4 separate regions of the Homo sapiens genome follow, and regions 1, 3 and 4 are each reported to be linked to region 2. The links are microRNA targets in miRTarBase. Many come from high-throughput screens and were not tested one by one. Region 2 holds a microRNA gene; each other region holds the end of a gene's coding sequence. Distances are from middle to middle.

The links. The annotated mature microRNA hsa-miR-6887-5p reads UGGGGGGACAGAUGGAGAGGACA and lies in region 2 at 5,233-5,255, opposite strand. An mRNA with a match to its seed (bases 2 to 7 or 8) in the 3' UTR can be bound and repressed. Matches are read on the target gene's strand: a 7mer-m8 pairs with bases 2 to 8, a 7mer-A1 pairs with bases 2 to 7 and ends in A, and an 8mer does both.
Region 1: miRTarBase lists WWP2 as a target of hsa-miR-6887-5p. Seed matches in the 3' UTR shown: 7mer-A1 at 1,410-1,416.
Region 3: miRTarBase lists MLLT1 as a target of hsa-miR-6887-5p. The part of its 3' UTR that is shown has no 7-base or 8-base seed match.
Region 4: the mRNA of PHF7 is a reported target of hsa-miR-6887-5p. The part of its 3' UTR that is shown has no 7-base or 8-base seed match.

Annotation. Positions count from the first base shown.
Region 1 is chr16:69,938,552-69,945,666 of GRCh38, forward strand. WWP2 (WW domain containing E3 ubiquitin protein ligase 2) reads left to right here. Exons shown (of 24, transcript NM_001270454.2): 22 at 476-572; 23 at 790-862; 24 at 1,290-3,188. The coding sequence ends at 1,389. It also overlaps a transcript of CLEC18A not described here. Among named protein-coding and RNA genes, the nearest start is that of MIR140, 9.0 kb to the left of the region's middle.
Region 2 is chr19:35,120,845-35,127,959 of GRCh38, reverse strand. It overlaps MIR6887 (microRNA 6887), which reads right to left and starts at 5,260; the gene lies at 5,196-5,260. It overlaps FXYD3 (FXYD domain containing ion transport regulator 3), which reads right to left. Exons shown (of 9, transcript NM_005971.4): 4 at 6,850-6,882; 5 at 6,715-6,738; 6 at 5,121-5,195; 7 at 5,006-5,042; 8 at 4,652-4,689; 9 at 3,636-4,519. The coding sequence ends at 4,503. LGI4 (leucine rich repeat LGI family member 4) reads left to right here. Exons shown (of 9, transcript NM_139284.3): 7 at 943-1,107; 8 at 1,185-1,690; 9 at 2,453-3,447. The coding sequence ends at 2,767. RefSeq lists enhancers at 3,566-3,655, 3,926-4,813, 4,814-5,703.
Region 3 is chr19:6,206,588-6,213,694 of GRCh38, reverse strand. It overlaps MLLT1 (MLLT1 super elongation complex subunit), which reads left to right. Exons shown (of 12, transcript NM_005934.4): 11 at 287-358; 12 at 525-3,314. The coding sequence ends at 653. Among named protein-coding and RNA genes, the nearest start is that of MLLT1, 70 kb to the left of the region's middle.
Region 4 is chr3:52,422,606-52,429,720 of GRCh38, forward strand. PHF7 (PHD finger protein 7) reads left to right here. Exons shown (of 11, transcript NM_016483.7): 10 at 155-276; 11 at 486-1,036. The coding sequence ends at 712. Among named protein-coding and RNA genes, the nearest start is that of PHF7, 16 kb to the left of the region's middle. RefSeq lists enhancers at 5,361-7,115, 6,089-6,188.

The DNA.
Region 1 (7,115 bases), not on the chromosome of region 2:
GAGACTGCAGTGAGCTGGACCGTGCCACTGCTCTGCAGTGAGCTGGACCGTGCCACTGCACTCCAGCCTGGGCGACAGAGCAGTGGCTTCCAGTACATTCACAGTGTTGTGCACCTGGCACCACTATCTAATTCTGGAACATTTCATCTCCCCAAAAACCTTATACCCATTAAGCAGTCACTCCCATATTTAGTCATCTCTAAAAGCAGAACGTGGATGGGAAGAGAATACCCAGCCTGAGGTGTCCCTGAGACCCAGAGATGTCCCATGGACTGGTGGGAATCTCATGCACACACAGCCTCTTAGCAAAAGCACTTCTGGGGTTTCTCAGGTTGGAGGCTGTCATCCCCTGGCCAACCTGGCTTTGTGTTCTCAGCCCCAAAGAGGGGCCCCGCTGAGCTAGAGAGCTCCACGTTCGGGCAAAGTACTGGGCCCCGTGGGTTGCCTGACTGTGCCTTGACTTGCGGACTTCCAGGTGGTGAAGGAGATGGACAACGAGAAGAGGATCCGGCTGCTGCAGTTTGTCACCGGTACCTGCCGCCTGCCCGTCGGGGGATTTGCCGAACTCATCGGTATGTTTTCTCTCGCCCTCTGGCGTCCTGGCTGGCAGTGCGGACAGCTCAGAGGGAGGGGGAAACCTAGTCTCTTCCTGGAAGCACGTCAGTGGGATGGAGAAGAGCTGTGGCCTCTGCATCCTGGGGCCGAGCCCATCTGTGGGTGGAGCCGGAGGATCCTGCTTTGGGAAGGGACGTCTCTGCTGACGTCGGCGTGTTTTACCTTGGATCACAGGTAGCAACGGACCACAGAAGTTTTGCATTGACAAAGTTGGCAAGGAAACCTGGCTGCCCAGAAGCCACACCTGGTGAGCCTGCTGGTTTTAGTGGGAGGTCGGGGGGCCTCAGACCCGATGAGCTCCTGGGACAGCCCAGTGGGTGTAGCAGCTTCATAGCCTCGAGTCTGGCAGCTTTTGCGTGGCCCTGGGGTGTTGGGTTGGAGAGATGGGGCTGTGATGGGCATCTGATCTACCGGGTTTTACATATGAAGCACTTCTGTTCCAGTAGTCCAAGAGCTACTGCCCCAAGTGTCCCCCGCAACCAATTTCCAGCTGTCCTGGCCCCTCCCTTAACACCCCATGGTCCAGGCACCTGCAATGTGAAGGCCTGACTGGCAGCCCCTGAGCCCTAGCCAGTGTGGTGCAAGCCCTGTGGCCCTGCTGCAGGCAGGCATGGTGGGGCTATCAGAGCCCTGGCCTCCTAGGGCTGACTGTCGTGCTTCCCCACTCTCAATAGCTTCAACCGTCTGGATCTTCCACCCTACAAGAGCTACGAACAGCTGAGAGAGAAGCTGCTGTATGCCATTGAGGAGACCGAGGGCTTTGGACAGGAGTAACCGAGGCCGCCCCTCCCACGCCCCCCAGCGCACATGTAGTCCTGAGTCCTCCCTGCCTGAGAGGCCACTGGCCCCGCAGCCCTTGGGAGGCCCCCGTGGATGTGGCCCTGTGTGGGACCACACTGTCATCTCGCTGCTGGCAGAAAAGCCTGATCCCAGGAGGCCCTGCAGTTCCCCCGACCCGCGGATGGCAGTCTGGAATAAAGCCCCCTAGTTGCCTTTGGCCCCACCTTTGCAAAGTTCCAGAGGGCTGACCCTCTCTGCAAAACTCTCCCCTGTCCTCTAGACCCCACCCTGGGTGTATGTGAGTGTGCAAGGGAAGGTGTTGCATCCCCAGGGGCTGCCGCAGAGGCCGGAGACCTCCTGGACTAGTTCGGCGAGGAGACTGGCCACTGGGGGTGGCTGTTCGGGACTGAGAGCGCCAAGGGTCTTTGCCAGCAAAGGAGGTTCTGCCTGTAATTGAGCCTCTCTGATGATGGAGATGAAGTGAAGGTCTGAGGGAGCGGGCCCTGGGGCGAGGCCATCTCTGCCTGCCTCCCTAGCAGGCGCCAGCGGTGGAGGCTGAGTCGCAGGACACATGCCGGCCAGTTAATTCATTCTCAGCCAATGAAGGTTTGTCTAAGCTGCCTGGGTATCCACGGGACAAAAACAGCAAACTCCCTCAGACTTTGTCCATGTATAAACTTGAAGTGGTTGTGTTGTAGGGTTGCAGGTTTTTTGTTACGCTGCTGTCACTTTCTGTCCAGGAGCTGGCACCCCAGGTGTTCTGAGACCTTGAGGGACCCAGACCTTTGGGTCCAAGAGTTTCCCAAACAGCCACGCCTCTCAGGAACCCACCTGGCGGTTCCGTGAGCTCAGGCAGGCCTGACCCGGCGGCACAGCCTGGCAGGGACCTCGTCCCCAAGCCTGGCAGAATGAGAGGGGTTGAGGTCCCGAGCGCCACTCCTAGCCTTGCCGCCTTCAATAGAGAAGAAATCCCTTTGCTAGATAGGGTCCCCCAGGCAGTCCCCAGTGGCGGGACACAGGGGTCCGGCTGTGGAGCTCCCCTGCCAGCCCCTGGAGCTCCAGGAGGGCCTGTTGGTCCCCTGTTCAGAATGGAGTGCAGCCCGCCAGCGGAAAGTGTTCATTCTGCATAGGTGTGAGGCTTTATCTGCACACAGGACATGAAAACCAGCAGAAAGGCCCTGAGCTGCTGCATAGCCCCATCTGATTTCTGCAGTTCCCGCCAGCCTCCAACACGGGGACTCTGCCGTAACTGGAATCTTCATAGGTCATATTGAAATCTTCAAGGTGACCATGCCCCACCGGGGTGCTGGGGCAGTAGTCATGGCAGACTCCCGGCCTGGGCCCCCAGGATTCTAGGACCCCCAGGCAGCCCCTTGGACTGGTCCCGGGTGCCTTCCAAGCACAGTCTCCATGCTCCCAGATTCTCGACCTTCCCCCGGCCCGGGAGGTGCAGCCTGCGTCTGCCTCTGTCGTGTGTGCTGATTTGAGTGGCTTAGCTTGCCACAGCGCAGCCTCTTCTGTCCCTTTCAGTCATTTGCTGTACTTCCCTGTGGCACGTTACCATGGAAGCCGCTCCAGGGTGGGTCAGGGTGCAAGCTGCTGGTGAGGTTTGGAAGCATCAGGCTCACGGGTGTTCATGTGTGTTCGTGCGTGTGTGTGCGTACGTGTATATAACTGAAGTGTCTGTACGGAATGCCCTTTGCTAGCCATGGGCTGGTCACCAGATTGTTTTGTAATGCCCGCCCCTTGCCTCGATATTGCCAGTTTCTTGTGCAATAAACAATCAGCAGCTGTGGGTGGTGTTGTTGTGGATGTTTACAAAGCCACAGTCCTCCAGTCAAGAGGACTCCGGGCCTCACAGACCCTCCAGGCCTGGATAGGGGTGGAAATTCCCTGACCTCGCTGGTTTTGAGAAGCATGTGTGTCATGGACCGAGGCAGCCCCCGACTTCTGGGCTGGGCAGCTGAGTCCTGGCCCAGGGGTCACCGGCTTCAGCCCTTGGTCAGCTGCCTCACCGTACCCTTTCGGCACCCTCTGCCTCCGCCTGCTGGACCCGGGGGTCTCCAAGCAGTTGCTGTGGGGTGCAGAACAATAACAGCTACAGACTGGGTGGGCTTCCGAAACTGGCTTGCAGGGAGAGTGTTCCAGGCAGTCATTCATTTGGGAAATACTCAGGTTTCACAAGTTCCACGACGGTCGAGGGACTCTGTGATCTTGACCTCAGGGTCACGTAAGGGCTTGCCACCCACTTTTTTTTGTTTTTGACAGATCACCATGCTGGCGGGTCTTGATGCATTTGACAAGGAAGTGACTTTGTCATGGACCAAGCAGGGCCCCGACTGTGCCTCCGATGCTCAGCGGGGCAGACCTGTTCAGAGCGAGCTCCCTCCTGGGTTCGTCAGCTGGACTCACTGCCTCCAGCTCCAAAACCTTATTTTCAGGCAACAGGCCAAGGCTGTACTTGGACAAAATTACTGGAAAAGGTCCAGATGTCTCATGATAAATTCAATAAGACATGCCCCAGTGGAAATCGTTCCCCCAACCCTTGTCCCCAGAGGGACCTACTATTCACAGTTGGCGGTGGCATTTCCAGACGCTTCTGTGCGGGTGGGCAAATCGTTTACACATACGATTTTTAAATATACCAAAAATGGAATATTGTACACACTGCGCAACTCACTTTTTTCATTAAATGAGATGCTATGGACCCCTTTCCATGTTCATCGAAGTAGACACTGCTTAACTCTTTAGCCACAGTGTGATATTCTGTATGATTGCAGTTCTGTAATATGCTCACCTCCTTCCTAAAGGAGGTGGCAGTTGTGTCCCACAGTTTGCTGGTGGCTGTGGAGCTCCGGGAAACGCCCTCGGGCAGGTCTGTGTGCTGCTGCTGCTGCTGCTCTCCTGCTAGGGGACGGTCCTAGAAGTTTGATTGTTGATCATGCACCTTTATTTTTCTTTAAAAATTTGGTGAAGGTTCAGTTGAAAGATGCAAAGGAGCTGCTGTGTAAGGCTTCCCTTACTCTTCTGTCCCTTGGCCACCCTGATGCCTTCCAGGAGGCAACCATCGCTGCTGGCTTCTTTTGGATCTTTCCAGATATACTTTAAAAATCCCAGCGGGGACAGGTGTGGTGGCTCACATCTGTAATCCCAGCACTTTGGGGATTTTTAGTAGACATAGGGTTTCGCCATGTTGGCCAGGCTGGTCTCAAACTACTGACCTCAGTTGATCCTCCCGCCTCGGCTTCCCAAAGTGCTGGGATCACAGGCATGAGCCACTGCATGCCTGGCTGTTTTTGTTTTGTTTTTTATTGTGGTAAAATACACAAATTGCTATCTTAATCATTTTTAAGTGCACAATTCAGTGGTATTAAATACATTCATAACGTTGTGTATCCATCACCATCATCCATCTCCAGAACTCTTTTCGTCTTGCAGAATGGAAACTCTGACCCCGCATTCCTCTTCCCCGCATTCCTCTTCCCCGCATTCCTCTTCCCCGCATTCCTCTTCCCTGCAGCCCGTGGCAACCACCATTCTCCTTTCTGTCCCTTTGATTGTGACTCCTCTTAACTACCTCCTTACGAGTGGAATCATATAGTACTTGTCGTTTCGTGACTGGTTTATTCCACTTAACATAATGTCCTCGTTGTGACTTGTTTATTTCTAAAAGTAACCACTGGCGCCTTGGTGCAGATGGAACTCCAGGTGCATGCGGTGAGTTAACCATGGTCTGGGGAGCTTTGTTTCCACGCCTAGGACATGCATCTGTGTGCATGATATGTGAGCTGATATAGCCATGCCTCTGGTGATTTGAACGCCTGCGCTTCCCAGCTGCTTCAGGGCCCTGAACATCGCTGGATGTTTGTACTTCATTCCCTCCTCAGCCCAGCTGGTCCCACTCCGCAGCTGTGCTCTAGGCATTTCATCTCAACTGGGTGATATATTTGAATACAGCAATTATAAGAACAGCAACCTCAGAAGAACATCTGGCATCCAGACCTCCCCAGCCTAGTTCCACAAGGTACCAACTTCCGTAAGCCTTGAAGAGCTAAGTAAGTCATCCGGGCCGGGTGTGGTGGCTCATGCCTCTAATCCCAGCACTTTGGAAGGCCAAGGCGGGCAGATCACTTGAGGTCAGGAGTTCAAAACCAGTCTGGCCAACATGGTGAAACGCCATCTCTACTAAAAATACAAAAATTAGCCGGGTGTGGTAGTGCATATCTATAATCCCAGCTACTTGAGAGGCTGAAGCAGGAGAATCGCTTGAACCCGGGAGGCAGAGGTTGCAGTGAGCCAAAACCGCACCACTGCACTCCAGCCTGGGCAACAGATCCCTTGGTATAGATACGGGGAGCTTGGGTGGTCTCATCACAGCAGAACGTCAGCTCTTGGCATGTTCTTTTCCTTTGCTACCAGCTTTTGAAACTGAAGTGTAGCAGAGTCATGAACCAGACTTTGAAACATGAACCAGACAGAGAAACATTTTAAGAAGTAGCGGCTGACCAGGAGTTGGAGATTGCAGTGCACTATGATTGCACCTATGAATAGCCACTGCACTCCAGCCTGGGCAACAGAGTGAGACCCCTATCTAAAAAAAAGAAAAAGAAGGGCCAGGCACGGTGGCTCATGATTGTAATCCCAGCACTTTGGGAGGCCAAGGCAGGTGGATCACAAGGTCAGATCAAGACCATCCTGGCTCACACAGTGAAACCCCATCTCTACTAAAGATACAAAAAGTTAGCCGGGTGTGGTGGTGGGTGCCTGTAGTCCCGGCTACTCGGGAAGCTGAGGCAGGAGAATGGTGTAAACCCGGGAGGCGGAGCTTGCAGTGAGCTGAGATGGCGCCACTGCACTCCAGCCTGGGCGACAGAGCGATACTCCGTCTCAAAAAAAAGAAAAAAAAGAATAGGGCCGGGCGCGGTGGCTCACAACTGTAATGCCAGCGCTTTGGGAGGCCAAGGCAGGAGGATCGCTTGAGCCCAGGAGTTTTAGACCAGCCTAGACAACATGGCAAGACCCCGTCTCTACCAAAAATACAAAAAATTAGCCGGGCATGGTGGTGCATGCCCATAGTCCCAACTACCTGGGACGCTGAGGTGGGAGGATCACCTGAACCCCGGAGCCGTGAGCACACCACTGTACTCCAGCCTGGGTGACAGAGTGAGACCCTGTCTGGAAAAAAAAAAAAAAAGTAGCTGGGTATGGTGGCACGTGCCTATCGTCCTACCTGCTCAGGAGGCTGAGGCATGAGGATGGCTTGAGCCCAGGAATTCGAGGCTACTCAGCAATTATGGTACCACTGCACTCCAGCCTGGGTGACAAAGTGAGACCCTCAAATAAAATAAATTGGCCATAAATGTAAGTTTTTTCCTGTATTGTTCATTCTGTTCCCTTGATCTATATGTCTTGTCCTTTTTCCGTATCTTATAGATGTGATTACTAGAAGTTTCATAGCAAGTTTTGAAATCAGGTAGTATACATTCTCCAGTTTTATTCTTTTTCAAATGTGTTTTGGTTATTCTAATTCCTTTGCCTTTCCGTGCAAATTTTGAGATCCAGTTTTCAAATTTTTTTTGAGATGGATCTTGCTATATTGCCCAGGCTGGTCTCAAACTCCAGGGCTCAAGGGATCCTCTTGCCTCAGTCTCCCAAATAGCTGGGATTACAGGCACATGCCACCAAACCTGGCCTCTCAATTGCTTTAAAATAAACACAAC
Region 2 (7,115 bases):
GCGAGGGCGGTGAATGGGGGTCCCGGGATAATGCAGCCTCTAGCTGGGTGGCCTGGTGACCAGCTCCAATCCTCTCTCCTGGAAGGTGGGAAGGATGGATTTTGTTGGATAACAGACTGCCTGTGCCAGTTAGCCTTTGTTTTCTCATCTGCGAAGGGGAAATCATCACAGAATGTACCTCACAGGGATGTTGTGAAGTTAAATGAATTAATCCAGATGCTGTTTCTAAGGGATTATTTGGTGATGCCACACAGCTTAGAAAATAAGATTTATGGGCCGGGCACGGTGCCTCACGCTTGTAATCCCAGCACTTTGGGAGGCCGAGGCGGGCAGATTATGAGGTCAGGAGTTCGAGACAAGCCTGGCCAACATGGTGAAACCCCATCTCTACTAAAAATACAAAAATTAGCTGGGCGTGGTAGCGGGCGCCTGTAATTCCAGCTACTCGGGAGGCTGAGGAAGTAGAATTGTTTGAACCCAGGAGGTGGAGGTGGCTCATGTCTGTAATCCCAGCACTTTGGGAGGTCAAGGCAGGAGGATCTCTTGAGCCTAGGAATTCCAGACCAACCTGGGCAACATAGCAAGACTCCATCTCTGCAAAAAATAAAAAAATAGCCAGCCATGGTAGCACACACCTGTAGTCTCAGCTTAAGAGGCTGAGGAAGGAGGATTGCTTGAGCCTAGAAGGTGGAGGCTGCATTGAGCTATGATTGTGCCACTGCACTTCAGCCTGGGAGACACAGTGGGACCCTGTCTCAAAACAAAACAAAATACCCCTCGACCCAAACCAAACAAACATCTACAGATCAAGATTCCAGTTATATGTCCCTATGAGGGGGGTACCATGAATGGCCTCCATTTCAGAGATGTAGGCAAACTGAGGCTCAGCAATGAGGACCCTGGGGGTCCTGGGGCCTGCCTGACTCTCTTCTCCACCCACAGAGCTGTCCTGGTTCCAGACGGTGGGGGAGTCGGCACTGAGCGTAGAGCCCTTCTCCTACCAAGGGGAGCCTCACATTGTGCTGGCACAGCCCTTCGCCGGCCGCTGCCTGATTCTCTCCTGGGACTACAGCCTGCAGCGCTTCCGGCCCGAGGAAGAGCTGCCCGGTGAGCCCCCTCCCCGTCCTTCTGCCTGTCCAGCAGCCTGCCTGGCTGGCCTGACCTGCCTCCCCACCTCCCCACAGCGGCCTCCGTGGTGTCCTGCAAGCCACTGGTGCTGGGCCCGAGCCTCTTCGTGCTGGCTGCCCGCCTGTGGGGGGGCTCACAGCTGTGGGCCCGGCCCAGTCCCGGCCTGCGCCTGGCCCCAACGCAGACCCTGGCCCCGCGGCGGCTGCTGCGGCCCAATGACGCCGAGCTCCTGTGGCTGGAAGGGCAACCCTGCTTCGTGGTGGCCGATGCCTCCAAGGCGGGCAGCACCACGCTGCTGTGCCGCGACGGGCCCGGCTTTTACCCGCACCAGAGCCTGCACGCCTGGCACCGGGACACGGACGCTGAGGCCCTGGAGCTGGACGGCCGGCCCCACCTGCTGCTGGCCTCGGCTTCCCAGCGGCCCGTGCTCTTCCACTGGACCGGTGGCCGCTTCGAGAGACGCACAGACATCCCCGAGGCCGAGGATGTCTATGCCACACGCCACTTCCAGGCTGGTGGGGACGTGTTCCTGTGCCTCACACGCTACATTGGGGACTCCATGGTGAGGCTGGGCCTGGGGGCGGGGGGCTGGCTTTTCAGCACTGACCCAATCTTGCACACTAAGCCTCTAAACTCTGACCTACCCTCACATGCCGACCTTTGAACCAGGACCCCACCCCACACTGATGCCAAGACTCTGACCCCCTCAAGGCTGGCTGACTCCGAACCACTCCCCAGTCCCCGACACTGATGCTGGCCCCAACATCCTGATTCTACCCCCAAATGCTGGCTCTGTGACTCGGATGCATTCCAGACTTCACCACAGCCACACCTGTCCCCACCCTGACACTGAGCCCCCAAGGCTGATGCTAGGGTTAAGCACTGCCCACTGTTTCTGGAGTGAGGTGCAGGCAGGGGAGGGTTCTGAGTCTGGAAGGGCCCTGATCTGACTCAGGTGTTCACAAGGTCTCTGGGTGGGGAACAGACTGGGGGAGCAGGGAGAGGAGCCTAGAGGCCAGGGAAGAGGCTGCCAGGATGGTCCAGTCAGGAGGGGATGGAGTTCAGCCAGAGGTGGTGGGAGAAATGTACAACTGTAGAAGGTGAAACTGACAGAGTCCATGGCTGAGTGCTTCTGTGTGGGGCGTGAGGGCAAGGGAAGGGCTCAGAACAACTGCATGTGTGTGGCCGAACAGGTGGGTGGTGACTTTTATGAAGATAAGAAAGCTATGGGAGTTTTGGGACCGACAGGCTTCTGCTTCCAAGCTGTTCCACGGCCCCCAGAGACCCCCGGGACCCCAGGCCCTCACTGGCCACACCCCCACAGGTCATGCGCTGGGACGGCTCCATGTTTCGTCTGCTGCAGCAACTTCCCTCGCGCGGTGCCCACGTCTTCCAGCCACTGCTCATCGCCAGGGACCAGCTGGCCATCCTAGGCAGCGACTTCGCCTTCAGCCAGGTCCTCCGCCTTGAGCCTGACAAGGGGCTCCTGGAGCCACTGCAGGAGCTGGGGCCTCCGGCCCTGGTGGCCCCCCGTGCCTTTGCCCACATCACTATGGCCGGCAGACGCTTCCTCTTTGCTGCTTGCTTTAAGGGCCCCACACAGATCTACCAGCATCACGAGATCGACCTCAGTGCCTGAGACCACCAACGGGACTCTGGGCATGGCTGGGGCCCCTGGACGGCCCCTTGGCTGGCTCCTGGCCCTACTTGGGGTGATGGCCCGCCTGTGAGCTGCTGACCGTGGGCCACGTTCATCAGCCACACGTCTAGGCCTTAAGCCCACTTCTTAAAGGATCTGCACCCATGGGGGGACATAGAGGGTCCCAGCCTACTGGACCTCCCGAGCTGCCCTTCAGGTCTAAAGCAACATCTGGACATCTCGGCTGGGGCAGATTCCCCATCAAAGGCAACCTGGGGGGTGCAGGCTGGTGCACTGCATGGAGTCGAGGTGGAGGTCACGTGCAGAGCTCCATGAGGTCCCGGAGCCCCCCTCTCAACCCGCTCCTACCCCGCTGGTCCCTCTGAAAGCACCGAGGGGTTGATGGCATTCCTTTCCCATTCTAAACTCCACGCAGCCAATCGCTTTCCTGGAGGAGCGCCAACCTCGAAGACAACTCAGCACTGGGCGGGTTCCCCTCTGCTGCTTGTGCGCATGCGTGCGGCCGCCCAGCAAGCTGTGCCTTTTGCGCCTCTTGCGCGTGCGCCGGGGCACAGGGAGGGACAGCGGGAGGTGTCGCGGGGAGCCTGGTGCCCTTCTAGATGGGCGACGGAGGCAAGGACAAGACGAGTCCGAGCTCAATAAATGCGCTGTGCACCCTCCCCGCCCAGTGTTGTGGATCCTTGGGAGAGGATGTCCTGTGAACGGCACAGGGCGGGGATGGTGTCCCTGGAGCAGTGCTCGGAGCGGCCCAGGTCCCAGGGAGGCGTTTCCGCAGTTCATGGTCTCTGAGTGTGGGTTCGTGGTTATGGAGGGACTCAGGGGATGTTTGAGGGATAAAACGGCATGATGAGGGGACAAGTCACGAGTTTATTGTGGGTCTCTTTTTGGGTTCATGTTTCAGGACATTGGAGGAGATATTTTTGGGTGTTTTGAGTTTTAGGCGTGTTGTGGGGTAGTTCATGAGAACATTTCGCATGCCTTATTAGGTATTGGGGAGTCTCAAGGGACTTTGAGGCTTGTTGGAAGTTCTCACACTATGTGGTCATTGTATGTTATTAAGGGTAGCATAGGGAATTATTTAACGGGCTTGCAGGGACATTTGGGTATTTGGAAAGATCTTGTAATAAAGTGAGGTCTCGGGGTAAGTGAGAGGGTCACAGGGGCTTACTATTATAAACTGTCTGAACACTTCCATCATAGCGGGACGATCCTATGTCCCAGTTTTCCTGGAATGGTCCAGGGTCCACTGGAATGTTCCAGTGTTCCATCTGGTTAGAGCTCTCTTTCATTCCTTTTGGCTACTAGTAAATCCCAAATTGCATATGAGGTTCCCATGGCTGAGGAGGCAGAGGGCGGGCCTGTGCCATGTCCCAAGCCACAAGGGAACAGGCCTGTGGGCTTTTCCCAACAAGCAGGCTCAGTGCCAGCCTCTGTGTCAGCCTCCAGGGCACGCCAACCTTCTCATGGTGCCCCAAGCCCCACCCCAATGCACACATAGGAAGTCTCCAGGCTGCTTGGGCAGAGGCACAATCATTTTAGATTAAAAAAAATTGAACAAAGAGACCCTCTTGCGAGAGGTGAGATGAGGCCCTGCCATGCAAAGGAGTCCCAGCAGAGGAGGAAGAATTCCATCCTGGAGTTCAAGTTTCTGTGCAGAGACAGGACCTGGGGACAGAGAACGGTCCTCCACCCAATTTCAGCTGGTCTGTCCTCATCAGCTTTGGGCTGAGCCTGCGGGAAGTGATGGGGTCCGTTTGTGAGGGTGGATTGAGTTCTTTTCTTTCCAGTGTGCAAACACACACATACACACACACACACACACCACTTCCGTGTTCCCCTGAGCCCCATGCTGCCCCATCTTACCTGGGGTGATGAGAGGTGGAGTCTCCCCTGGATGGTGACTAAGGAGACAAAAGTGGTGAGATTGGTGTCCGCCCCCATTTGCCCTCTCCCTCCGGATAGAGGGTTCTTAGCCTGCCCAGACATGTCTTCCTGGCTGCCTTTCCATTTGGGGGGTTGTGCAATCCCAGGGGCCAAAGCATTTCAGGATTTGGGGCCCCCTGGGGATTACCAGCTAGAAACAATAAACCTGGAAATCTTAGCGGCAGGAACTCTAAAGGGCAGAGCCCCGAGGCCTCTCCTGCTGGGAGAGTTAGCCCTTTCACCCTGAAAAGCGTCCAGTCAGCCTGAGGCGGGCATGCCGGAACAGTATCTTACCCGGACTTCTGGCCAAACTTGCATTTGCATTTTGCACCTGTTGGGGAGAGCTGAGTGGTCAGGGGAGGGGAGCCCCAGCCCCGGCCCGCCTGCTCCCCCGAGCTCCTCCACTCACTCATGACGATGATGATGCCCATGGCGCACAGAACCCCAGCGCAGATGAGCCCGCCAACCTGGAGGCTGTGCCAGTCTAGGAGGAAAGTGGAGGGGACCTCAGTGCCAGCCTGTGTCCTCTCCATCTGTCCCCCCATTCTCTTGACAAATATATATGGAGCACCTAGGATGCACAGGGTGCTGGGGACACCGCCATAAGAAAACAGACAAAATCCCAGGTGCTCACATTCTGGTTCACACACCAGCAAACACGATCTGTCGTGCAGGGTCAGGCAGAGATAAGTGGTTTGAAGAAAAATAAGTGGGGTGGGAGATGGAAAGTCAGAGGGCGGGCTGGGCATAGTGGCTGACACCTATTAGGTTGGAGCAAAAGTGATTGCGTTTTTGGCTAGACATGGTGGCTCACGCCTGATATCCCAGCACTTTGGGAGGCCAAGGTGGGCGGATCACCTGAGGTCAGGAGTTCCAGACCAGCCTGGCCAACATGGTGAAACCCCGTCTTTACTAAAAATACAAAAATTAGCCAGGCATGGTGGTAGGCGCCTGTAATCCCAGCTACTCAGCAGGCTGAGGCTGGAGAATCATTTGAACCCGGGAGGCAGAGGTTGCAGTGAGCCAAGATTGCACCATTGCACTCCAGCCAGTCACACTCTGGGTGAAAGAGCAAAATTCTGCCTCAAAAAAAAAAAATTGCATTTTTGCCATTAAAAGCAGTTGCAAAAACCACAATTACTTTTGAACCAACCTAATATAATCCCAGTGCTTTGGGACTTCAGGAGTTCAGGAGTTCTAGACCAGCTTGAGCAACATAGTGAGAACCCATCTCTACAAAGTATACAAAAATTAGCCAGGCATGGTGGTGTATGCCTGCAGTCCCAGCTATTCAGGAGGCTGAGGCAGGAGGATCGCTTGAGACCAGGAGTTTGAGGCTGCAGTGAGCTATGATTACACCACAGCACTCCAGCTTGGGCAACAGTGTGAGACGCTGTCTCTAAAACAAAAAAAAAGTCAGATGGCAGCTCTTTTAGAGGGAGTTGTCAGGGAAGGCCTCTCAGGGGGCTGCATTTGAGCAGAGGGAAGGGAGGGAGCCATGTGGTTCTGTGGAAGGAAGTGTTCCAGGCAGAGGAACCAGCAGGTGCAGAGGTCTGAGGCTGGCAGTATGTCTGCTGTGTCTGAGAGGCTTGGAGCAGAAGGAATGAGGAGCGTGGAGAGGTGAGGGCAGAGCGGGGAGTAGGGAGCAGGTCATTGGAACCTGGAGGCCAGATGAGGGTTTTGATCCAATAGCTCACCACCTCCAGGAAGTTTTCTCAAGTCAACACTTCTCCCAGCAGTTGATCTGAACCAACCAATGGCTTCTTGCAAACTGTCCTCACCTCCTGCGTGTGTCTATCTTGCTGGAATAGAACCTTCCCAAAGGCCAGGTTGCTGCCTCTAGTTCCTTTAATCCACTGTGTGGCATATTCAGTAACCCCATCCTAGTCCCTTCGTATCTTTGTCCTGTGATGCTCACGTCAGGCCCCAACCCTGTATGGGAACCCTTGGCACCAAGCAGTATGTGGGGTTGTGGGGAGGGGAAAGGGGGCACGGGCTCTCACCATAGTAGAAAGGACTGTTTTTATCTGCAAGGAAAGAAAAAAGATCATGAATCCAGGATTACAGCCAGGATGCAGGCCTTCCCCACCCAGGGGAGAATTTGGGGGTGTGACGGGTGAGAGTCCAGTCTGACTCACCTTCTAGGTCATTGGCGTCCAGGACAGGAAAGCCTAGTGGGAGAAGAGGGGAAGGAGGGGAGATGGTGATGCCGGCCTCAGCCAAGCCTTTGGGCAGGGCCTGGGGAGTTTCAGGGGCCTTGGGAAAGGGTCTCCTGCGGGACAGGGGTCCTGTCACTGAGCAGCCACCTCATCCCCTCATATCCCAACGAGGAAATGTGGACTCGCCCACTCAGCCCCACACCTCCGAGTCACGCCAGCATTCTGCCACCTGAAATGGGTTCTAA
Region 3 (7,107 bases), 29 Mb from region 2:
CTACGGAGGGGTGGGTGGTGGGAGTTGCAGCCAGTGGAGGACCCCAGAGCCCCCCAACACCCCACAGTTGGACTCTTCCTGGGCAGGAGCAGGGACAGTCCTTCCTCCCCTCCCGGTGTGGCCTTGGAGCTGAGGGGCTGCCCCTGCAGCCTTGGGCCTTCCTTGGTTTGGATGTGGCTACCTCTGTCCTGTGCTGGGATGGACTGGGTCATGGGTGGGGCTGGGCATGGGAGCAGGAAGGGTCCAGGGCCCCCACACGCTGCTGAGACCTGCCCCCCCTCCCCAGGCCTACACGGATGAGCTGGTGGAGCTACACCGGAGGCTGATGGCGCTGCGGGAGCGCAACGTGCTGCAGCAGGTATCGCCCCCCTGAGGGTCCTGCCCGGCAGAGGTCGGGGTGCCTGTGAGGAGTGTGGGCTGCGGGGGCCCCTGGTGCTGCCCCAGGAGCCCCTACCTCTGTTAGGGAACAGGGCAACCCCACCCTTGGCCCCCTGCCCCTGAAGCCACCTGCCACCACCTTACAGATTGTGAATCTGATCGAGGAGACTGGCCACTTCAATGTCACCAACACCACCTTCGACTTCGACCTCTTCTCCCTGGACGAGACCACCGTGCGCAAACTGCAGAGCTGCCTGGAGGCCGTGGCCACATGACCCTGGGCCGCGTGCCGGGCCCCCACCGCCGGGGTCCTGGGAGGCTGCAGCCAGGCCTCGCCTGCCCTCCTCTCCCGTCTCGCCTGCCCGCAGCACTGCCTTAGCGACAGCCCTGTCCTCGCCCGCACAGCCCGCTGCACTTTCCTCGGCGGCTCCCTGCCCACTCTCCCCGCTCCATCGCCAGGAGCCCTGGGGCCGGGCTGGGCCACACGGGAGCCGCCCCCCGGGCTCTCTGGGCTCCCCTCAGAGAGCGGCTGGTGTTGAAGGCAGCTCTGGGCAGAGACAGGGCCGGGGGCCCCTCGCCCAGCCTTGGGACCAGCCCCCACTGCTCGGCGGGCTGTGCGGCGTCGCTGCCCCAGCCTTTCTGAGCAGCGGATCGACGGCTGGGGGGCATCTCCAGCCTCCCGAATGGTTCAGAACACACCCTCCGCCCACCCTGGACCTCAGAAGGCCCTGCCTGTGTGTCTGCGTCGTCCTCCGTGTAGACCTAGCGCCGGCTCCTCCCCGGCTCGCGCTGCGCTGGGGTCTGTGCTGTATAGTTCTCTCTATTATATATGTGTGTGCACTGTCTGGTCAAGAGCAGTGTCCATGTGCGTTTCTGTGGCAGCAGTGCACGTGGGGTGGGTGGGGGGTGCGTACGGTGGGGCTTGTAGGTTAAGATGTCTCTGCGGTGGTGTGGGGCTGGAGGCCGAGCCAGGCACGGCAGCTGGCCCTCTCCAGGCGCATGGAGGAATTCTCCCTTTGCCGTTCCAAGGATGCCGCCGCCTCCTACCGGGGCTCCCGGGGGGGTCAGCCAACACTACAAAGGGCAGCGAGTCCTCAGGGCGCCCGGGAGCCACCAGTCTGCTCTCGGGCTCTACTCAGACTAGCGCCAACAGTCTCCGCGGACAGACTCGCATCAGCCGCCCTGGGGCTCGGCCTCCTCCCATAGGCTCCTCTTCCTCTCTTTCATTCAAGTCTTCAAACTTTGAAAAAAATATGAGCTTTTGCCAAATAAGACGGGATAGTTTATGGAGTTTTCTGAGGCGCATTGAACTCTGGTCAGCCCCTCGAGCGTGGGCTCGGCCATCAGCAGGCCCGGTGGGTTGGCCGGGCTGGCCCTCCCAGGCTGCCTTTCTCTCTGGTCGCGGCCTGGCCCGCCCCGGCCTCCACCGCCGCAATTCATGCTGGTGCCGCGCCCGCAGCCCCACTCCTGGTATGCCTGAGATTCTCCAGGGGCCAAGCCGGTCCTCCTTCCCGGCCCACTCTTCCAGGGCCAGGACGCTCCCGCGGAGCCAGCCCATCGTGGCTGGGGGTCCCAGGGGCTGGAGGCCTGCCTGGTTAGCCTCTGTTTCCCAGACATTGACTCGAGGCGCCTCCAGTCCTCTCAACCCCCTGACTTTCAAGTCCTTTCAAGTCCTTGTGCCCTGACCAAGTTATGAGGAAAAGAGGGCTGAGGGCCTGGAGGTGGGCTCGCACCCCCTCGAACCCACCTAGATGTCTCCTCCTCCCCAGCCTATGAGTTCAGACTTGGGGGGCTCCATCTGTCCCTCCCTGAGGTCCCTCATCTTGTCCCTGCTCTGATTCTGTCAGCAGATCCTGAACACTCCTTGGTGGGGACCCATGCCTCCAAGGCTGCCCCCAATGCCAGCTGTCCTGGGGAAACTCCCCAGAACTCTCGGGGAAAGGCCCGAGAACCTTCGGAGGAAGCCTCCGGGACTCCTCGCCACCTGCTCTGTTTCTCTCCCGGCCCCACTGCCTTCAGGTATCAGGAAGAGGGCAGGCCCCTGTGCCCCCTCTCCCCTTCCCAGGGCGGCCAACAATACTCCACCATGGGGCGCTTCCTTTCTTCTCTGGAAACTAAGACATTGGACTGAAGGAACTGGCCTGAGGGGGGCTGACCGGGGGCCCGTGCTGCTGGGAGCTCTACGCACAAGAGGCCGCCGGGGTCACGGACAGGAACCTCAGCCCAGGGTGCTGGCCTTTCTCCTTCGCAGGAGTCCCCCAAAATCCACACAGCGACTCGAGCAGCCTTCCACTCAGCCAGAGGAGGGTCGGGCTCCCCCGCCTGCTCTCGGTGGTGGCGTCTGGCCCTTCCTGCCGTTTCCAAGGCCTCCGGAAGCACCAACCCAGTTCTCAGTTACCTCCTCTGGCCGGAAGGCCTCACGTTGTCCTCCAGAGCTGCTCTGGGCCCAGGGCTGGCTCCGTGACCACCTGATGGACGTGCTGGGCAGCATGGGCTCCCAAGGCAGCATCCCCAGCTGCTCTCCCACCCCACCCCAGCTGCCCGGCGGCTGGGCCCACGAGGGCTCTGGGGACACTTCCATAGGAAAGGGGCCTGGCACTTTGTGATTGCCACGTGTTTCCTGTTAAGCCGCCTGCCCCCAGTGCAAATCTCTGTGTTTTGCTCTCTCCTGAACAAAAATGTAAACCGACGCCGGAAAGCAAATGGTATCGAATACCTTTCTTGCCCATAAGGGTTTTTACAAAGAACGTGTCTCACTAGGAACTAGGACACTCATCGGCCCGAGACCAACTCCTGGATAAAAGGAATAAGGAGAATCGTGTTTGTAACGAGTTACAGGATTGTTTCTTTCCTGGATTTTAAACTTTTGTTAAATTGTGAAATTATGGAGGAGTTTTATAGAAAAAAAAAGTGAAATAAAGTCAGATGGGAAAGCAGACGCATGCATCTGCCTGGTTCCTCCTGTCCAGTCAGTGGGCAGGCTTGCGAGGTAGCCTGGGGCCCCCTGCCCCGACTACGTGTCCCAGTGCCCCCAGATCAGTGACCAAAACAGAGAAGGAGGGTTGGGACCAAGCCTGGTGGGGGTGGGGAGTGTGAGCAAGGCTGGAGACGATGCTACCAGCAATTCAAGAGGGCAGAGAATTCGGCTCACATCCTGCTTCTGATGCTGTGCTCTCTACTTGGAAGCAGACAGCAAGGTTTGGGTTGAGAAGAAAACTTGGTTTCATAAGGTGGATGCATGGATGATGGATGAACAGATGGGTGGGTGAGTGGATGGGTGGTTTGATGGATGAGTGGATGATTGGTTGGGTGGACCATGGATGAATAGATGGGTGGGTGGGTGGAAGAAAGGATGGAAGGATGGATGGATCGATGGGTGGATGGAAGGAAGGAAGGAAAGGAGGAAAGGAGGGAGGGAAGGACGGAAGGAGGGAAGGAAGGGCAGATGGGTGGATGGATGGAAAGGATGGATGGTAGGAAGGATGGATAGATGGGTGAGTGGATGGAAGAATGAATGGATGGGTGGATCAATGGATGGGTTAATGGGTGGATGGAAGGAAGGAAGGATGGATGCGTGGATGGATGGATGGATGGATGGATGGATGGATGGATGGATGGATGGTTGGATGGACGGAAATAAAAATGTAGGCAAAGACATTTTTTCCCAGGAGCCAGCGTGCCATCTCCCAGTTTCCCTCTGGTGGGTTTTTCTCTGGCCTCAGTGTGGCAGAGCTCAGTGAACCTCCAGGAGACAAAGCTGTCACTGGCCCCATTTGAGCAGATCTGTCCCCTCTGTGCTCCAGCTCCAGCTCCACCCAGAGGAGCAGGAGTTCCATTCCTGAGCAGCCCACATTACAGGATCACCGTGGCAGCCACTGATTGAGATCACTTTTGTCAGCAGGCAGCAGCTGGGGACTCAGCTGGGCTCAGCTTAGCGCTGGGGACTCTGGAGCATGTCTTCTCCCTTCTACTCTGGAACCAAAAGATCCATTCCCAGCATCAGAGTGTGGCTTTCCCTGCCCCGTGCCTTACCAGAGAAAGGTTCTTTTAGGCCTTCGGGGTATGGTTTTGGGTCTGAGCTCCTAAAGTAAGAATATGGAGTGAAAGAAGGTCTACAGTGGTTCCTTCAGGGTTCCCAGACCCTCCAAGGTGCAGTGGAAGGACTATGGATGTGTAAAAACGTGGTAGGGCTTTCTGGCCAGGCATGGTGGCTCACACCTATAATCCCAGCACTTTAGGAGGCCGAGGCGGGTGGATCATTTGAGGCCAGGAGTTCAAGACCAGCCTGGGCAACATGGCGAAACCCTGTCTCTAGTAAAAACACAAAAATTAGCCTAAAGTACAGTGCACACCTGTAGACCCAGCTACTTGGGAGGCTGAGTCACAAGAATCTCTTGAACCCAGGAGGCAGAGGTTGCAGTGAGCCGAGATTGCACCACTGCACTGCACTCCAGCCTGGGCGACAGGAGAGACCCTGTACTAAAAAAAAAGAAAAAAAATCTGGGCGAGGTGGCTCACGCCTCTAATCCCAGCACTTTGGGAGGCCAAGGCGGGTGGATCACCTGAAGTCAGGAGTTTGAGACCAGCCTAACCAACATGGTGAAGGCTGTCTCTACTAAAAATAGGAAAAATTAGCTGGGCGTGCTGGCAGGCACCTATAATCCCAGCTACTCGGGAGGCTGAGGCAGGAGAATTGCTTGAACCCAGGAGGCAGAGGTTGCGGTGAGCCAAGATCACACCATTGCACTCCAGCCTGGGCAACAAGAGCGAAACTCCAACTCAAAAAAAAAAAAAATGTAGTCAGGCTTTCCCTAAGAGTTGTCTCATGGACTCTTCACAAGCACTCCGTGAGGTGGGCACTGCTTCATCCCTGTCTACAGATAAAGAAACTGCCTCAGCAAGCCGAGTTGCCCAGGATTTTTTCTAATTTTTAATTTTAACTTTTTTGAGATGGAGTCTCGCTCTGTCACCCAGGCTGGAGTGTAGTGGTGCGAGCTCAGCTGACCACAACCTCCGCCTCCCGGGTTCAATCCATTCTCCTGCCTCAGCCTCCTGAGTAGCTGGGATTACACGAGCTCACCACCACACCCTGGTAATTTTTGTATTTTGGGTAGAGACGGGGTTTCGCCATCTTGGCCAGGCTGGTCTTGAACTCCTGACCTCATGATCCACCCACCTCGGCCTCCCAAAGTGTTGGGATTACAGGCGTAAGCCACTGCGCTTGGCTCTTTTTCTTTCTTTTTTTTTTTTTGAGATGGACTATCACTCTCACCCAGGCTGGTCTGGAACTCCTATCCTCAAGTGATCCATTATCAAGTGATCAAGTTTTCCTTGAAATGGTTTTTGGGCTGTTATTGTTTATTATTTAGGATGTTTTTATTTTAAGTTCTCCCATGATTTCTCCTAGGAATTCAATTCTTCTTCCCCCTTTTCCTGCCTCCCTTCCCTCTTTCTTTCTCACATTTCAATTTGTTCCATCTGGAATTTATTCAGCCATGAGGTAGGGCCCCAGCTCTATTTCCCCAATAGCTATGCAAGGCGATCCACCCCATTTATTGAATAACCTGTCTTCACTTATTTGAGATGCCGTCTTTGGTTGCATTTTTCAATTCCTGCATACGTTTGTGTCTCTCTCTGGCTTCCCTCATATGCACAGTACTCACCTTTACATTTCTGCCACTGTGTGACCTAATTAATATCTGGTAGTGTGCCCGGACGCAGTGGCTCACGCCTGTACTCCCAGCACTTTGGGAGGCCGAGGCGGGCAGATCACCTGAGGTCGGGAGTTCGAGACCAGCCTGACCAATATGGAGAAACCCTGTCTCTACTAAAAATACAAAATTAGCCGGGTGTGGTGGCGCATACCTGTAATCCCAGCTACTCGGGAGGCTGAGGTAGGAGAATCGCTTGAACCCGGGAGGTGGAGGTTGCGTTGAGCCGAGATCAAGCCATTGCACTCCAGCCTGGGCAACAAGAGTGAAACTCCGTCTGAAAAAAAAAAAAAGTCTGGTAGTGGTAGTTTCCCTTTATAATTCTGCTTCAGAATTTTCCCAGATATTCTTGCATGCTTTTTTCTTCATATAAATGAATCCGCTTATGTTTCAGAATATTTTTATCTGTTGTTCTGACGTTTTAATTTTAATTTGTTTTTGTTTTAGACGGAGTCTCGCTCTGTCACCCAGGCTGGAGTGTAATGGCACAATCTTGGCTCACTACAACCTCTGCCTTCTGGATTCAAGTGATTCTGCCACTTCAGCCTCCCAAATATCTGGGATTACAGGCACCCGCCATCATGCCCGACTAATTTTTGTATTTTTTTAGAGAGGGGCTTTCACCATGTTGGCCAGGCTGGTTCTGAACTCCTGACCTCAGGTGATCTGCCCGCTTTGGCCTCCCAAAGTGCTGGGATTACAGGCGTGAGCCACCGCACCCTGCCCATTTGTTTTGTTTTTTGAGGCGGGGTCTCATTCTGTCACCCAGGCTGGCATGGGGTGGCGCTATCACGGCTCACTGCAGCCTCACCCTCCCAGGCTCAAGCAATCCTCCCACGATGGCTTCCAGAGTAGCTGGGGCCACAAGCACATGCCATCAGGCTCAGCTAATTTTGTTTGTTTGTTTTTTAATTTTTGTAAAGATGAGGTCTCGATATGTTGCCCAGGCTGGTGTTGAACTTCTGGGCTCAAGCGATCCTCCCACCTTGGCCTCCCAAAGTGCTGGGATTACAGGAGT
Region 4 (7,115 bases), not on the chromosome of region 2:
GGCAGGCTTCTGGGATCAGCACTCATCCTCTCTGAGCCATACATTCATCTTGGGTAAAATGTGCTGTAAAAAATGCCTGGCCCATAGCAAACATCCAAGCATGGCAGTTGGTGTTCTGTATGTCTCCACAACCCTTCCTGGGCTCTTCCTCTAGGAGGTGGTGCCTCATTCTGTGTGCTACATGCGGATCCCACGGAACCCACAGGGACTGCTCCTCTCTTAGATCTAACAGTAAGAAATGGGAGTGTGAGGAGTGTTCACCTGCTGCAGCCACAGGTGAGGCTGGAGGGATGGGCCGGCCTCAGAGCAAGGAGGGGGCTGTAGGGACTTGTGGTGCCTGGGAAAGGAGGAAGACATCCCACCAGAGGGGGATTAATAGTTGGTGCCTTTGACTTTGGAAGGAAAGTAGCTAGAGAGGAGCTTAAGGACCTGTGCCTGGGAGAAGCAGAGGCTTGAGTTTTCCTCTCCTGCCTTTCTCTCACCAGACTACATACCTGAAAACTCAGGGGACATCCCTTGCTGCAGCAGCACCTTCCACCCTGAGGAACATTTCTGCAGAGACAACACCTTGGAAGAGAATCCGGGCCTTTCTTGGACTGATTGGCCAGAACCTTCCTTATTAGAAAAGCCAGAGTCCTCTCGTGGCAGGAGGAGCTACTCCTGGAGGTCCAAGGGTGTCAGAATCACTAACAGCTGCAAAAAATCCAAGTAACACCTTCTGAGTAGCTGCTGTCCCACACAATAGGGTATGAAGCTGCGCTCCTCCATCGGGTTTGGGGAGGGAGCACTCTGGGACTGTGAGACAAGGAAGCAGGGCCAGCAGTGAGACTATGAGCCAAGCAAAGAGAAGTCTCAGTGGAGCATGAGGAGGGAGCAGTCCAGATGCCAACAAGGAAATGCGTTTATGGCTACAAGAGTGCCTCTGCTTTCTCCTCCTCTCCTCCCACCAAGGATTCTTCCACCTTAATCTTGTTTTCATATGCCTCTTCTTACTTCACCCATGTTTGTTGTTATGCAAATAAAGGTTTTCTCTCCATTGGTGTCTCCTTATAAATTCATTCTGAAATTTGTCTGGGTAGTAAAGATTCTACGGGGTAGAGTACGAGAGTAAGAAAACTCACCCTCCTAATCCATAAAATTTAGGGAATTAATGTAGAACTTTTAGCTTAGAATATAGACATGTTTCTTTGGAGGGAAAGAAACCTGTTTATACGGAAATTGGCATTACAGAGGTAGAGAATCTTCATCAATCATTGTGCAAATAATAAGTACACAGGTTCTCATTAGGGAGGTGAGCCAGCATAGCAGTCCACACTGGGTGGAGAATAGGCCCTTGTTGCAAGGCTTGGGGTCCTGGACTCAAACAGGTCAAGGACTACCATGCTTATACATGGGGCATAAGGGACTCCATTCTCTCCTGACTGGTGTGGGCTTCAGCACACCTCCACAGCATGAGTGAGCCCAGTCAAACCCTCACTGCCCGGTGGTTCGAGCATTTCCGTCCAGAGTTTAAATATGAATTTGCATGCCAGGACATTCAAATTAGGCAAGGTGGCCGGGCGCAGTGGCTCATACCTGTAATCCCAGCACTTTGGGAGGCCGAGGCGGGCAGATGACTTAAGGTCAGGAGTTCAAGACCAGCCTTGCCAACATGGTGAAACCCCATCTCTACTAAAAATACAAAAATTAACCGGGCACGGTGGTGGGTGCCTATAATCCCAGATACTTGGGAGGCTGAGGCAGGAGAATCGTTTCAGTCCGGGAGGTGGAGGTTGCAGTTAGCTGAGATCGCGCCACTGCTCTCCAGCCTGGGTAACAGAGCAAAACGCTGTCTCAAAATTAAATTAAAAAAACATAATCTTCCCGTTTTCGTTCACCTCAGATAATTGTATCACAATTTTTGTTAACTTTCAATGTTTATATTATTATGATGCTAGAAATACTGTTTACCACTGAGCCAGGCAGTACACTATGATTACCTTTCCTCTTTTGTACAATGTTTTTTTCTGAAATTAATAATTGCTTCTTTTTTGGTATATACCTATTGCTAATTCTTCTGAAATGTTGCAAATGATCAACAAAATGTCTCAAAATGCAATTTTCCTCATAGACCAGGCATCAGATCACTATCAGCTGGACTTCTTTTCCTGAAGACCTGCCTCCCAGAGCCGCCGCCTCCAGTGCTGGCTGCTCCTAGAGCTCCTGCACAGCTGTCCTCCTAGGGCTTCCCACAATTATGCCCTTTTTCTTCATTTCCTTTCTCTTGGGTTTGACCACCCAATGCTATCCTTGCTTATCCGGGCGTCCAGGGAAATTTTGTCAGAGCTCTGCAAGTAACAGGAACATTTTTTAATTGTGAGCTTTCATATAAAACACAATATTTAACCCATTCTAAAGATTCAACTCTTGCAGTGATAATTCACAACTGAAAGATGCTCCTTAGATTAAGACTTTAGTTCTAAACCTAGAGTTTCTGTAACTTGGGTCACCAGGCATATTTTTAGGGATCTGTGGTAGTATTAATATCTTTTCTTAAGGAGTCTATTTGTATACCCAAGTGTGAGAAACACTATCTTAACTGAGAGTAATGGCCCCTAACAGTGCCCTCTCGACTTTAGCTTCAGTGGGTAGAAAGGGAGCTTGGGAGGGGGCAGTTTTTGTCACCTAGATGTCAGCTGCCCTACCTCTGTGTACAGTTGACTTTGTGGATACTTGCTTAGCTAACACGACAGTGCATGCATACACACACACACACACACACACACACACACACAGCTATTAACTATTTCTTACTCTTTGTATTTTTAGTCTCCACTGATGTTAATAGCCAACCCTATTTTTATAGGCTGGAAAGTCCAACTTTGAAATGTTCTATTCTTCATCTGGGCCTAATCAGTCATTCTCCACTAAATAACTGGCTTCTTTTTTTTTTTTTTTTTTTTTTTTTTTTTGAGACAGAGTCTCTTTGACCTCGTGATCCACCCACCTCAGTCTCCCAAAGTGCTGAGAATCCAGGTGTGAGCCACCACGCCTGGCCTCTTTTTGCTTTTCTTTTTCTTTCTTTCTTTCTTTCTTTTTTTTTTTTTTTTTTTTTTTTGAGAGGGAGTCTCACTCTGTTGCCCAGGCGGGAGTGCAGTGGTGCGATCTCGGCTCACTGCAACCTCCACCTCCCGGGTTCAAGTGATTCTCTCCTTCCTCAGCCTCCTGAGTAGCTGGGATTATAGGCACGCACCACCATGCCAGGCTAATTTTGTATTTTCAGTAGAGACGGGGTTTCACCAAGCTGGTCAGGCTGGTCTCGAACTCCTGACTGCCTCGGCCGCCCAAAGTGCTGGGATTACAAGCGTGAGCCACTGCACCCAGCCCCTTTTTTTTTTTTTTTTTGAGTCAGGGTCTCACTCTGTTCAGTGGCATGATCATGGCTCACTGCCCCGACCTCCCTGGGCTCAGGTAATCCTCCCACCTGAGCCTTCCAAGTAGCTAAGACTATAGGCATGCACCACCATGCCTGGCTAATTTTTTTTATTTTTTTTTAAGAGATGAGGTTTCACCATGTTGCCAAGGCTGGTCTTGAACTCCTGGGCTCAAGGGATCTGCCCACCTTGGCCTCCTAAAGTGCTGAAATTACAGGTGTGAGCCACCACACCCAGCCAGCTTCTTTCTTAAATAAGCTTTTAATTTAGAATAGTTTTAGACTTACAGAAACATTGTAAAGATAGTATAGAGTCCCCATATATCCCAAACCTAATTTCTCCTACTATTAACACATTAGTATAGCAAATTTGTCACAATTAAAGAACGAATATTGATACATCATTATTAACTAAAGCCCAAATTTTATTGAGATTTTCTTGTCTTTTCTGTTCCAGGATACCACATTGCACTGTGTCGTATCTCCTTCGGTTCCTCTTGGCTGTGATGGAATGGCAGACTTCCCTTGATTCTGAAGACCTTGACACTTCTGAGGAGTACTGGTCAAGTATTTTGCAGAGTGTCTCTTAACTGGGATTGTTCTGATGTTTTTCTCATGATTAGACTGGGGTTATGGGTTTTGGAGGAAGACACAGGAGAAGTGCCATTTTCATCACATCATATCAAAGTTACATAGTATCAGCATGACCTGTCACTGTTGAGGTTGACTTTGATCATTTGGCTGAGGTAGGTTTTGTCAGATTTCTCCACTGTAAAGTTACCCTTTTTCCCCCTTTTCTTTTCTTTCTTTTTCTTTTTTTTTTTTTTTTAGATGGAGTTGTACTCTGTTGCCCAGGTGGGAATGCAGTGGTACAATCTTGGCTCACTGCAACCTCCGCCTCCCGGGTTCAAGCAATTCTCCTGCCTCAGCCTCCTAAGTAGCTGGGATTACAGGTGTGCACCACCACACCAGCTAATTTTTTTTTAGTAGAGATGGGGTTTCACCATGTTGGCCAGGCTGGTCTCGAACTCCTGACCTCGAGATCCACCCACCTCAGCCTACCAAAGTGCTGGGGTTACAGGTGTGAGCCACCGCACCCAGGCTTTTCCTCTTTTCATACTGTACCTTCCAAAGGGAAGTCACTATGTGGAGCCCACAGTTAAGTAGAGGTTTTTATGCAACTCCTCCTTGAGGATGGAGTATCTACATAAATTATTTGGAATGGTTCTGCATGGGAGATTTACCTATTTTATTCTCTCCTGCTTATTTATTTAGCCAATCTTTTTTTTTTTTTTTTTTTGAGACGGAGTTTCGCTCTTGTTGCCCAGGCTGGAGTGCAGTGGTGCGATCTTAGCTCACTGCAACCTCTGCCTCCCGGTTTCAAGTGATTCTCCTGCCTCAGCCTCCCAAGTAGCTGGGATTACAGGCATGCGCCACCATGCCTGGCATTTTGTATTTTTAGTAGAGAAGGGGTTCACCAGGTTGGTCAGGCTGGTCTCGAACTCCTGACTTCAGGTGATCCACCCACCTCGGCCCCCCAAAATGCTGGGATTACAGGCGTGAGCCACCATGCACAGCCTATTCAATCATTTAGTATGGACTCCTGGACTTTGGGTTACAATGTAATAATACTTTATTTTGTTGCTCAAATTGCTTTGGCCACTGGGTGTTCATGTGTCCTTTTCACACATCCCCATCACTGTGTGTCTGGTTTTGTTTTGTTTTGTTTTTGAGCACTTTTTTACTTTCTGACACTGCAAGATGCCCCAAGCTCATCTTCTTTTAAATGCCTGTTTCATGACAAACACATGTTTAAAATTTTTAATACCTATTTTCATAACTGATGTGTCTTATTAGAATTAATTACTGTTTCATAACTTAGGAGCTGGGACAAATCAGTTCACTTAGGGATAGTAGAAATAGATGTTAAATAAAACTTTCCCAAAGCACCTGCTCCCCTTCCTCTAATCATTACCTTTACGGGAACCGTAAACTAAGGCCAGAAACCTCAGATTTTCCTTCAGCTTCCCTCTCTGTTCAGCCAACCTCTTTGTTGTCAGTTCGACTGTTTTTCAAATGTTTGCCTTCCTCTCCTTCCCATTGTCAGTGCTCAGCTCAGACCTTGATGCCTCATAGGATGGGCAGCAAAAGTCTGCATGGTTTCCTGTGTCCACTTGCTTCTCTGACACATCCACCCTTTTCCCTTCTGCCAGTTACCATAAAACATGTGCTAACTCTTTGCTCAGGATGGCCCTGCTGAGATTGGCATTCAAGACCTTCTACAAACAGGGCCTTCCATAGCTGCATCTCCCAGGACATCCCACCCACAGGCCTTCTTCTCTGGCTGCCTCAGAACACTGGGCCCGGGCCTGGGGTGCTCAGCCTGGAGAGTCCTGGCATCCATCTTCAGCCTGTTAAACACAGCCTAAGGGCTACTTCTTCATCTCTAGGCACTCTTACTGTCTCTGTTTGTACCCCCTGTTATAGCCCATGTCATTCTCTGTCTGTCCTACAGTTATGGGTCTGTCTTTCCTGCTAGATCAGAAGCTCCAGGGACCTGTCTGTCTTATTAACCTTTCTTCCCCTCATGATGCCTGGCCCAGGACTCCACGTTCAGAGGCAGTTTAATGTCTACAGAACTGATGGATGCTCCATACCCTGTATTCATAAGCCTGTGTTTTGCTGCCAAACACCAGAGGGCACTGTTAGCATGTCGATGAAGATTATAAACCCTCAGACCTGGAAGGCTGGGAAAGGCTTATGAAAATCTTGCTTCTGTTTTGGGATTACATAAGACTTATTGCGCCTCAATTGTTCTAAACACATCTGTTCGAGTTTATTCATGAGGCACGTTCCTGTTGGGGTTAGAGATGAGTTTGAAAGCTCCCCGTCACAGGTCAAATCCTTAGACAAGACTGCCTTCATAGTCTCTCCAGACCCAAAGTGGCTCTCCTAACCCACCAAAAATATCTCCCAATTACTCATTGAGAGGCATCCAGATGCCCTCTCCTCCACCAAAAATGGCGACTGCCAGTCCCAAGGGGGAATGTGTGATATGGTTCTATTCCTTTTCTGCCCCACCCTCCTCCCACATGCACACATGCACAGGTACCTGTCCACACGAATGCACACTCACTGCCATCAGGACCTCTGGGTGGTGGCTCAAACGGTGGCTCAAAGGCTCTAGCCTCTATGGGCAGGGTGGGAGGATGCTATGAGAAGCAGCACCTCCACTGGCCCTGACCCCAGGGAGACAGCATCAGTTTCCCATGTGCTCCCAGTCACAGCATCATGGGGGCCCCCAGGTGTGAGAAGTCTCCCTAGTGACTAAGCCAGGGAGCTCCATTCCAAAGGAGCTGGCTATTTGCAAAGGTGTCATGGCTTGTACATTTTTCCAAAAAATGACAGAAAAACTGAAGAACTGATTTTTTTCCCAAAACAAAAAACCCTTGCCCTCACTTCTCCCTAGCAAACCTGCTCTAACCCTGGGATCCCTGAGCAACATGACAGCATGAGGTCCAGATGGAAGGGGTAAGCCCCAGGAGCCCCTTCCCCTTGTCTTTGGTGTAAACTGGCTTCTTGACCCTGCCCTGCACACACCCCTAATAAACAGGAAGGCATCCGCGCCATTAGTATCCATCCTTTTCAGAGCATCTGAGACCTGTCTGGACCATCAAAGCCATCCCCAGCCCCCAGGAGCCTA